Regions from separate parts of the Homo sapiens genome. Here region 2 is linked to region 1. The links come from fine-mapping of genetic effects on gene expression. A gene starts in region 1. The other region holds a variant in brackets. All regions are shown on one strand. Distances are between the middles of the regions. Region 1 holds the start of CFAP45 (cilia and flagella associated protein 45). Region 2 overlaps IGSF9 (immunoglobulin superfamily member 9).

The links.
Region 2: its variant is fine-mapped to the expression of CFAP45 in whole blood (TOPMed, PIP above 0.99).

The regions. Positions count from the first base shown.
Region 1 is chr1:159,897,350-159,902,720 of GRCh38, reverse strand. CFAP45 (cilia and flagella associated protein 45) reads left to right here and starts at 2,556. Exons shown (of 12, transcript NM_012337.3): 1 at 2,556-2,625. The coding sequence starts at 2,623. MIR4259 (microRNA 4259) reads left to right here and starts at 2,642; the gene lies at 2,642-2,742. LOC124904435 (a long non-coding RNA gene) reads right to left here and starts at 2,471. Exons shown (of 3, transcript XR_007066679.1): 1 at 1,908-2,471.
Region 2 is chr1:159,932,967-159,938,337 of GRCh38, reverse strand. IGSF9 (immunoglobulin superfamily member 9) reads left to right here. Exons shown (of 21, transcript NM_001135050.2): 4 at 500-652; 5 at 1,430-1,584; 6 at 1,822-1,939; 7 at 3,516-3,657; 8 at 3,768-3,913; 9 at 4,006-4,148. Among named protein-coding and RNA genes, the nearest start is that of IGSF9, 10 kb to the left of the region's middle. RefSeq lists an enhancer at 2,860-3,360. The variant A/G (reference allele first, on the strand shown) is at 2,784.

The DNA.
Region 1 (5,371 bases):
TAAGAAACTGCTGCAGCCACCTCTGCTTTCAGCAAGTGCTACCCTCATCAGTTAGCAGCCATTAACACTGAGGCAAGACCCTCCACCAGCAGAAAGATGATGACTCTCTCTGAAGACTCAGATGATTGTTAGCACTTTTTAGCAACAAAGTATATTTAAATTAAGGTATGCACATTTTTTTAGACATAATGCCATTGCACACCTGATAGACTACAGTATAGTGCAAATGTAACTTTCCTATGCACTGGGAAACCAAATAATTTGTGTTGCTCACATTGTATTGTGATATTAGTTTTATTGCAGTGCTCTGAAGCCTAATCTGCAGTATCTCCAAGGTATGCCTGTAGACACATGGCCAAGGGTTCTTCTCTGAGCCTTGACATGTGCTTACGTAAATGAGAGGCCTGAAGCTTAAGCATTGTTAGCTTTGAGATAAATTTTTATTGTATTTTATTTATTTTATTTTTCAAGACAGGGTCTCACTCTTGTCACCCAGGCTGGGTGCATTGGCACGATCATGGCTCAGAGCAGCCTCAACCTCCGAGGCTCAAGTGACCCTCCTAGTGCAGCCTCCCAAGTAGCTGGGACCACTGGCATGTACCACTATGCCTGGCTAATTTTTGATTTTTTGTAGAGATGGGATCTCCCTATGTTGCCCAGGCTGGTCTCAAACTCCTGGATGTAAGCAATCCTCCTGCCTTGGGCTCCCAAAGTACTGGGATTACAGGCATGTAATTGCCTGCTGGGAGGCAAGTCCCTTACACTGCACTCTGTCATTCCCTCCTTCCTGCCATAACTTTTTTAATTTTTCTTTGAGACAGAGTCTTGCATTGTTGCCTGGGCTGGAGTGATCTTGGCTCACTGCAATCTCCCCCTCCTGGCTTCAAGTGATTCTCCTGCCTGAGCCTCCTGAGTAGCTGGGATTACAGGTGCCTGCCACCACCCCCGGCTAATTTTTTGTATTTTTAGTAGAGACGGGGTTTCACTATGTCGGCCAGGCTGGTCTCGAACTCCTGACCTCGTGATCTGCCCACCTTGGCCTCCCAAAGTGCTGGGATTACAGGCATGAGCCACCGCGCCCAGCCCTTTCTGCCTCAACTTTGCACCTTTTCTTCAGAGAGTTACCCTGGGCTGAGAAAAGAATAGATTTTCAATTTGGACAGTTTTTTCTTGGCTTGTTTCCTCTTTGGTTACACGGATAGTAACTATGTCATGCAGATGTGCCTGGGAGAATGGGGTGAATACAGGAAGCACCTTATTCACAGTGGGCCGGTTACTTGTCTTCCCTTCTTTCTGAGCTGCAGGGAACGGGGTTCTAATGCCAAGGCTTAGTAAGGAAGGTTCCCACGAACAAAACAGCCCCTTCTCTCAGTCCCAAGCCTCCCAGGGACTGTGCTCCTCCTCTTCAGGCCTTCCCTTCTCCCTCTGATTAAGCCTTCAACACTTGGTGGGACTGGGCAGGGGACACAATTTTGTACTCTTGATCCCAAAGGAGATAAAGGCTGGGAAATCTAGGGAAGGAATGTGAAGCCTGTTGGAGTAAGTCCTTTTAAAAGCAGCAAGAAGTGACCTTGTCTCCCTCTTTCCATTCCCCCGGGGCTTGTGAATAGCCTTCAGTGCCCAAGTTGGAGTAAGAGCTTCAGAAAGACTGGCTGTGAGGGTTTGGAGAGAGGTTTGAGAAAGCAGCTCAGAGACTCACAGAGTCACACCAAGAGCTTAGCTAATCAGCTAATCAGCACTGGAGGAAGACAAATGTCCTTGGTCTGGTGGGACAGCTTCGTGAGGCTTGGAGCATGCAGCCTACCAAAGTGAGCTCAGTGCCAGCCCTGCAAGTTGGGAGGTAGAGAGGCCAAACCAAATTGGAAAAAATGACAAAACCCCTATGTACTTTCTAGAACAATACATACCAGCTAGGAAGTGTTAAAAGACAAGCTCCCCAAAGTCAGTTCCTTAGCTTTTGACTTATTCTAATGTAGGGCCTCCATTTTTAATAAACTCTCCCAGGTGATTCTTAGCTGCAGATTTGAGGCCCGCAATTTAAGAAACTGCTCTTGAGACTGCATAGACATCCTCAGGGCTGGAAGTTCTTTGTTGACCCGACCAGATTCTCTCCTGCTGTGGAACTGGTTTGTCCTGATCCTGCTGGCTTCTCTGCAGACTACACTCATCAGGGGTTGGCTTGGCGCCTCCTGGGCAATGGGGCAAGAGTAATCATAGCAACCTAGGTGAAGTCCCAGGGGAAAACTGTGACCCTGGGCCAGGCTCCTGGGGCCGCTGACAGTTAGAACCCCCTCGGCCCATAGTAAGTTCTTTAGGTTCGGGTTCTGACCGAAAAGTTTGGCCAAAGCCAAAGTGGAGAGCAGGGCACGCCAGGGCGGGTCAATCCTTCAGAGCCGCGGTTGGGCTGGAGCGTGGAGCTGCAACGGTTGGAGCGACGGGCTCCGGTTCCTAAGCCACCAGCACAAGGCAACTGCCCGCTGGAGGTGGGAGGGGCGGGGCCGGGGGCGGGGCCTGAGCCGAAGAACGCGGGCTAGTGGTTGCCAAGGTAACGCGTCAACACTAGGGCCTTGGCGGCGCCGAGGCGGCAGCAGAAGTCCGGAGTCAGGGCGTGTGGCTGAGGAGATGGTGAGGGAGAACCTCAGATGGGCCCCTTGTGTCCTGAATTGGGTGGGGGCTCTGAGTGGGGAAAGTGGGGGCCTAGGGGAGGTCACAGTTGGGTCTAGGGGTCAGGAGGGCCCAGGAGTAAGGAGAACACCTCTAGAAGAAGCAAGGGAGATCCTGAGGTGGGTTCAAAAGAGGAATTAGGGATAGCATCGATAACGATTGGAAATGTGGAGCGCGCTGAGCGGAGGAGTTGGGGAGAAAGGGATGCCCCAACCCTCTCCCCGTTGCCATTACAGCGGGGCCTCTGTGGACCAAAGATTGTGGATGTGGTGTGGGAAAAAGCACTGGTGGGCCGGGCGCGGTGGCTTACGCCTGTAATCCCAGCACTTTGGGAGGCAGAGGCGGGCGGATCATGAGGTCAGGAGATCGAGACCATCCTGGCTAACACAGTGAAACCCCGCCTCTACTAAAAATACAAAAAATTAGCCGGGCGTGGTGGCGGGCGCCTGTAGTCCCAGCTACTCGGGAGGCTGAGGCAGGAGAATGGCGTGAACCCGGGAGGCGGAGCTTGCAGTGAGCCGAGATCGCGCCACTGCACTCCAGCCTGGGCGACACAGCGAGACTCCGTCTCAAAAAAAAAAAAAAAAAAAAAAAGCACTGGTGAGGAGGCCAGATAATGGGTCGTGGTACCTGTTTTGCCACTAACTAGCAAGGTGACTGTGGGTAAGTCATCTAATGTGCCCGAGCCTCAGGTTTTTCTTCTGTTAGCAGGGCTTTGTATCCCTCAGTAGTTAGTCAATAAATATTTGGCAGTGAATGAATGAATGAATAAATGAGTGAGTGAGTGAGGAGGGTCTCAGGTTTGCAAGGCCCGGGAGAGAGATTGGGACAGGACTGGCAGCCTGGGGTTTGCTGGGATGGGGAGGGCTGTCAGGGTACTGAGGGCTGAGAAGGCCAGCAAAGCCTGGGAGGAACCATGAAGGGGATGCCTGGGCTTGAGTGTGTTGGTCCCAGAGGGGAGGGGAAGGGCAGATGATAAGTGTTGGAGTCTTGGGTTATTGGAACTGACCTAGAATGTCTGGGGCACAACAGGTGGCAAAGGTTGCTACTTGGATGTACTTGTGGACAGACTTCAGGCCCAGGGGCTGCATTGCTTTTCTGGGGCTCAGTGGACCTCAGAAGAATTTTGTTAATTATTAAATAAGTCTCCAACAAAGAGCAGTTCCTGACTTTCGAGGACTCCCTGCAGTGTTGTAATTGGGGTGGGGGAGCGTCCCCTTTCACTTATGTATTCTATTTGATTCAGTGTCCCATCTTCTCTCAGCACCTTACAAACACAGTGGCGTATGTATGTATGTGAACACCTACTGTCATGCCTGGTGTCTAAGGGCATATGGTAAATGTTAGTTCCCCTTTTGTCCTCTTTTAAAAATTTCCTATTTCCAAGCTCTCATAGGGCATAAGTTGCACCTGGGCAAGACCTGTGGGCTTCAGAGCACCCAGATCAGGGATTCCCCATCCAGGAGCCACTCAGGGCAGGGGTTTGACTCACTCACTGAGCCCCTCTGTAATTCCTGGGACAGGACTGGGCATATAGACACCTTTGAGAAGCAGTGGGTCTAAGTTAGTGATCTCTGGCAGGCCAGCTGTGTGTGTTCGTGTACGTATAGTGCTACTCACTAGGTTTGGAGAATATTTAAAGGCATGAGAAGAGATAGTAGTGGTGGTGAGGGTCACAATTAGGCAGACTTCCAGAACTCTTACAAAAATAATGATTAAAATCCTGCAGAAGGAGAGATGGGGACCTCAGTACTGACTAGGATGTTATCTTCTGGTGGCATCCTACAGATGGCCAACTTGGTCCCAATTGAAGAAAGAGGATAATTGCGTGGATCACTCAGAGTAAAAGGCAAGGGGTCTCGTGCATGGGAATCTCCCTTTCTTGGTAACCAAAGTCTACAGAAAGGGAAGTAGAACCAGGCCAAGAGTTTGAAGCCTGAATTTGCCAGCCTGCGGAGACTGTGCAAAAGAAGAACTAGATCTCAGAATGGGTAAGACATCTAGGAAAAGACATATCTTTCCTGAACATGTCAACCTGTTTAGTTGACAGGTGTTGAAGTTACATCAGGGAAACTTCACACTGACCTATTCTAGCCCCATTCCAGCTTTGTCTTGCTGAATTTGAGTGAAACATTCTGGATCCCAGAATATATAATGCTATGGTTTTTTTGTTTGTTTGTTTGTTTGTTTTCTTTTTTAGGTCTGTACTCTCTTGCTTTCAGAGTTCGGGCACCAGGCCCATTGCTATGCTTTGTTTTCAAATAAAAATTGTTTTATTGTTTTTTTTTTCTGGTCATAAAATTGGTATCTACTCATTGCAGGAAATTATTCAATAAAGAAACATCTTAAGATGGTAAAGGTTCCTGACATACTGTTAAACATTTTTTTGAACATGCTTTCAGTAATACATTCTGGGCACATACCTGCCATACAAACATCTTTACAAGAGTACTTCTACATTTCTTTTTCTTTTTGAGATGGAGTCTTGCTCTGTCGCCTAGGCTGGAGTGCAGTGGCGTGATCTCAGCTCACTGCAACCTCCACCTCCCAGGTTCAAGCGATTCTCCTGCCTCAGCCTCCTGAGTAGCTGGGACTACAGGCGTGTGCCACCATGCCCAGCTAATTTTTGTATTTTTTGTAGAGACGAGTTTCACCATGTTGGACAGGCTGGTCTCAAATTCCTGACCTCAGGTGATCCACCCACTTT
Region 2 (5,371 bases), 36 kb before region 1:
TGAGGGATTAGGGGCTTTGGCAGGCGGGGTCTGGGTTCCCCCTGCTAGGGCCTCAAACACTGCTGAGGTTTTCAGGGAAACAGTCCTCTATCAGGAGTACTCCCAGGAGCTCACACCTTCCCCTACATAAAGAGCCCAGAGGTGGACAGATCCTGTAAGAGTCCAGAGGAGACTACATGCTGGCTCTTCACTTCCTTCCCCAACAGTCCTAGACACCGAGTGCAGTTCAGGGGAAGGTTTTGTCCACCTGCTGTCCCCCTAGGTTTCTCTTTGTCTAGACAGGGTCCCAGCTGTCGAATGGCAAGAGTGGTCAGAGGGGCCGAATGGAGGGACCTGTCCTGAATGACCCCAACCTCATCTGCGTCTCTCTGGACCCCACACTCAGAGTAACTGGGAGAGACTGAGCCTGTTCTTACCTCTAAGAATTACCAGTGTGACCAGGGGACTGGGGCTTCCATGGGGTTCCTTCAGCACCCTTGATTCAGGGCTCCTCCCCCAGGACGAGTCCGGCTGCAGAAGGGGGCCTCTCTCCAGATTGAGGGTCTCCGGGTGGAAGACCAGGGCTGGTACGAGTGCCGCGTGTTCTTCCTGGACCAGCACATCCCTGAAGACGATTTTGCTAACGGCTCCTGGGTGCATCTGACAGTCAATTGTATGAAGCTGGGGGGCAGGTGGTGGAGAAGGACGGGGAGGAGGAGGATGGGGATCTCTGGCTGGTGGGAGAAAGGGGAAGAGGGAGTTCTATTTCCATCCCACAAACAGCTCTGATGCCCCACCCTTCCTGAGAGCCCTTGTTTGCTCACTTAGTAGTTGCATCTCACCCCTCCCCCACACTCCTGCCCTTTTCAGTTCTTCAAATATAAATTCAATCAGCCTTCTAGGCTCGGTGTCAGGAACTCCCTCTTTCTCTTCCCTCCTGCTTCCCTGGCCAGGGAAGTGGGTGGGAGAGAGGGGCTCTTGGGCCCTGAGTGAAACACAGCTCACATATATATAGCACCTTGTGTTTTCAAAATACCTTTTCACCCAAGCCCTTATTATTTATCTCTCACTCCTAAGTAGGAAGGAGGTCATAATCATTCCCATTGCATAGGTGAGGCTGAGTCATGCCACTGATTAGTGGCAGAGCAGAGTCTAGGACCCAGGCCTCCTCACTCCCAGAACAGTGCTCCTCCTGAGGGGGCTTGGCTCTCCCCCAGGCTCTGGACATCCAACCTGGGTTCAGCCCCAGGCCAGTGTGTGGGGGTGGGTTGACAGAATCCTCATTTGGCCTGGGTGCAGTAGACAGGGTGGCCCTGGGCTGAGGACTCCTATGAGGCAGGGCTGGTGGGTGGGCAGCAGGCTGGAGCCCTGAGTGGTCTCCCTGGCCCTTGGACACTGCTTTTTGGGCTGACAGCCCCACTGGGGCCCCTGATGCCTGTCTCCCTTGCAGCACCCCCTCAATTCCAGGAGACACCTCCTGCTGTGTTGGAAGTGCAGGAACTGGAGCCTGTGACCCTGCGTTGTGTGGCCCGTGGCAGCCCCCTGCCTCATGTGACGTGGAAGCTCCGAGGAAAGGACCTTGGCCAGGGCCAGGGCCAGGTGCAAGTGAGTCCTGGGGGTGGACAGAGTGAGCCATATAGAGTGTGAAGGGAAGGTGGGGGCCTGGCAGTGGGGCCAGAGGACAGAGGAGGCAAAGGCCAGGCTGGAGGATGGGCCAGAAGAAGGGCTTGGCATTGTTTGCCCCGAGCCTGGGGTGCTGCCTCCCTCTGCTGGCCAAACTCGGAAGTGCAGGATCTGAGGCTGGCAGGGGAAAGGACTCTTCCTCACCCACTCCTTCCCTAGGTGCAGAACGGGACGCTGCGGATCCGCCGGGTAGAGCGAGGCAGCTCTGGGGTCTACACCTGCCAAGCCTCCAGCACTGAGGGCAGCGCCACCCACGCCACCCAGCTGCTAGTGCTAGGTGCTCTCTGGCGGGAGGGCTGGGGTCCAGGGTTACCTATGCAAGGGGGCTGTGACCTGTGGCTGAATTGGTTCACAGCAAGATAGGAGGGAGATTTGTGCCTGAGGGCAGGGCCCGTGGAAGCTAAGGGGGTTCCCAATGCAGGCTGTTGCTCTGAAACCAGCACCTTAATTTTAAAAGGCTCAGTAAGCAGACAAAGCGATCTTAGTGCCCAGTAGTGTGTTATAGTGGAAAGGACATGGGTGCTTGTGTTAGGCTGTGAGCCAGTTAACTCCTTGAGTCCCAGTTTCTTCATCTTTATAAAGAGACTCATCTCTACCTCTCAGGTGTGTTACAAGAATTTACTTAGGTGCAGCTGAGCCCAGTCACTGGCACATGGTAATTCCTGGCCAAGATCCTTCCTTTAGAAGGGAAACTGAGAAGCAGAAGGCCTGGACTGTGCCTTCATAGAGCCTATTATCTTTGTGGGGAAGTGAGACTAATTGGGGAAACAGGGAAGTGTTGCTGTCCGTGGTACTGTAAGAAAGGCAGTGCCGGGTAATGGTTAAAGGTGTCGTCTGTGGCATCAGGAAGCCTAATATGAATGTTGCCTCTCCTGCTGTCCTTGGGCAATCACCTCACAATCTCTCTGCCTCTGAGCCTTCACTTCTTCATCTAGAAAATGGAGACAATTCCCACCACAAAGCTTTTGGTGAGGATTAAACGAGGTCGTGCAGGTAAAGTGCTTAGCACTCAGTGTCCCGCATGCAGTCAGTGCTCTGTTGTGTCAGCTCGCATCATGACCTCTTCTTACTGACTGCTCATGCGGTACCGGCCCAGAGAGGGGAAGGAGTAGTGGAACTGT[A/G]GTAGCCAGAGGTGCTTTTGCAGGAGGTATGTGGCGCGGCCAGGCCCTTGGGAGGGGCATTCCAGACCGGGGGTGCAGGGAGCAAAGGCATGGAGATGGGGGACAGCCAGCTGCCCATACTGACCTGAAAGAGTTCATGAGGGCTGACATATGGAAAGATGGCTGGCCACGTAGGGAGGGTTTGGATCGCAGGGGTCCACAGGGCTGGGTTTGAGCTTAGTGTAGTAGGAGCCAGGTGCTGTTGCAGGTTCCTGAGCAGAAGTGTTCTGTGGCTCAAGGGGCTGTTTCTGTATGAATGGCCATTAGAGTGGCAGCTGCAGGGGAGCCTGGAGTCAGGGGCTGCTGCAGCATCTTGAGGTGAGGTATTGGGCACCTGGGTTAGGGCCAGAGACAGAGAAGTAATTCAAGAGGTGACAAGCAGGGATACAAATGGTAAATGAGCAGAGTTAAACTGACTCCCCCAAACACACACACCATTCCTAGGCAGTGGAACTGCATGAATGGAGTTGCTCTTGATGGAACAGAGAGAATTTGGAAAGAAGAATGGGTCTCAGGGAGAGGATGAATTCTTGTTACATACAGGGGGAAGCTTCTGCTTCCACTCCCCAAAGCCCTGTAACAACGAGCCCTAAGATTCCAGAGAGCAGAGCTGGGAAGAGTTGTAGAGGTGACCTCAGGGTTCTGGGAAGACTGTGGGCTGAGGCCACCTTCCTCCCCTTGTGCATCCCACAGGACCCCCAGTCATCGTGGTGCCCCCCAAGAACAGCACAGTCAATGCCTCCCAGGATGTTTCATTGGCCTGCCATGCTGAGGCATACCCTGCTAACCTCACCTACAGCTGGTTCCAGGACAACATCAATGTCTTCCACATTAGGTGGGGTCACCCTCATTAGGAAGGTGGAGGTGGGGAATTCACAAACAGTCTCTGAAGAGCCGCTTGGCTGGGCAAGGCCTGGACCCCTCCTCACACATGCCACATTGCAGCCGCCTGCAGCCCCGGGTGCGGATCCTGGTGGACGGGAGCCTGCGGCTGCTGGCCACCCAGCCTGATGATGCCGGCTGCTACACCTGTGTGCCCAGCAATGGCCTCCTGCATCCACCCTCAGCCTCTGCCTACCTCACTGTGCTCTGTAAGCCTGACCCCAGCTTCTCCCTCAGCCTGCTCCCTTCCCCTGGGCCAGGCCAAGCCCCTCTCCCCCAACTTGCCACTACTTTCCCCCAGACCCAGCCCAGGTGACAGCTATGCCTCCTGAGACACCCCTGCCCATAGGCATGCCGGGGGTGATCCGCTGCCCGGTTCGTGCCAACCCCCCACTGCTCTTTGTCAGCTGGACCAAGGATGGAAAGGCCCTGCAGCTGGACAAGGTACAGGCTTGGGGCAGGGGAAGGAGGGTCTTAGCTTGGCGTTATTCTGCTCAGGACAGCAGGGTGGAGTTAGCTCGGTTTAATTCAGTTCAGTGACTGGGGACACACATCTTTTGTGAATTTAATTTGTGTTATAAGACATGTTGCATAGGAAACTACTTAAAACCCCTGAGGAAAAATTTCCATGGTTTAAAGTGGTGGTTTTGTGTCTTCTTTGGGGAAAGAAGAGAGATGATCTCTGGGGAAAATGATGGCAAAGAGTCAAGAAGGAGAACTGAAGTTTCTTTCGTGTGATGACTGGGAAATTGTGTGTCCCGGGGGAACACACACTTCTTACCAGGTGCTGTGTGGGGTAGTGGGTTGAGGGCAGGGGCAAGGAGGCATCCATCCTTAAAGTGGGCACCATCTGGGCAGAGGACAGCAACACTGTCTGGAAGGCCAGGGATGGAGCTCGTGCCTTCCTCTTAGGGTGGTTGAGGATAGACCAGCAACAGATTCTGGGACTTTGGTGATGGGCCTCAAAGAGGACACAGTCATTCCCTTGCAGAAACCAGGGTCAAGAGGCAGGAAGTAGTATAGTACGTTTATGGAATCATGGATCGTCCAATTGGGTGGGAGCCGGAGTGCCTGCAGGGACATGAATGGTGCAGAGAAAGCTGGAAAGACAGGTTAGCATCAAAAGGAAGAACTGGATGCCAAGTTACTATTGCCTCATTCCAAGGCAATTGGGATCTTTTGTCTGCAGAGACTATAAATTTTTGAGGCCTAGTATTGCATCTTTTCATCATAGTGTACCTGGGGCTTCTACAACAATAGTACTCAGTATATCTTTGTTGAATATTTAAGAAAAAAGTCTACAGGCAGTTGGAGCCACTGGAATTTGTTGAGCATTGGTGTGATAGGATCAGAGCTGTGATCAGGGGTTGAGCTTGCCCAGTGGAATGTAGCGGGAGATACTGGACATAGGAAGAGGGGTTCTGAAGCTGCTGAAATGGCCCAGGTGAGAGTTATGGAGTCTGATTTACAGAGGACATGAAGATGAATGGGCTCATGCTCTGACAAAAGGGACTTCCCAGGATGACTGGCTTAGTGAGTATTTCACCAGGGGGAGTGAGGGAACGTGAGGAGGCAGACTTCAGCAAGAAGGATGGCGGGCCCTTTAATAGAGAAATAGGAGCTGGTTTTGGGTGGAAGACTCTGAACTTAGTTGTGGAGTGCTGGGA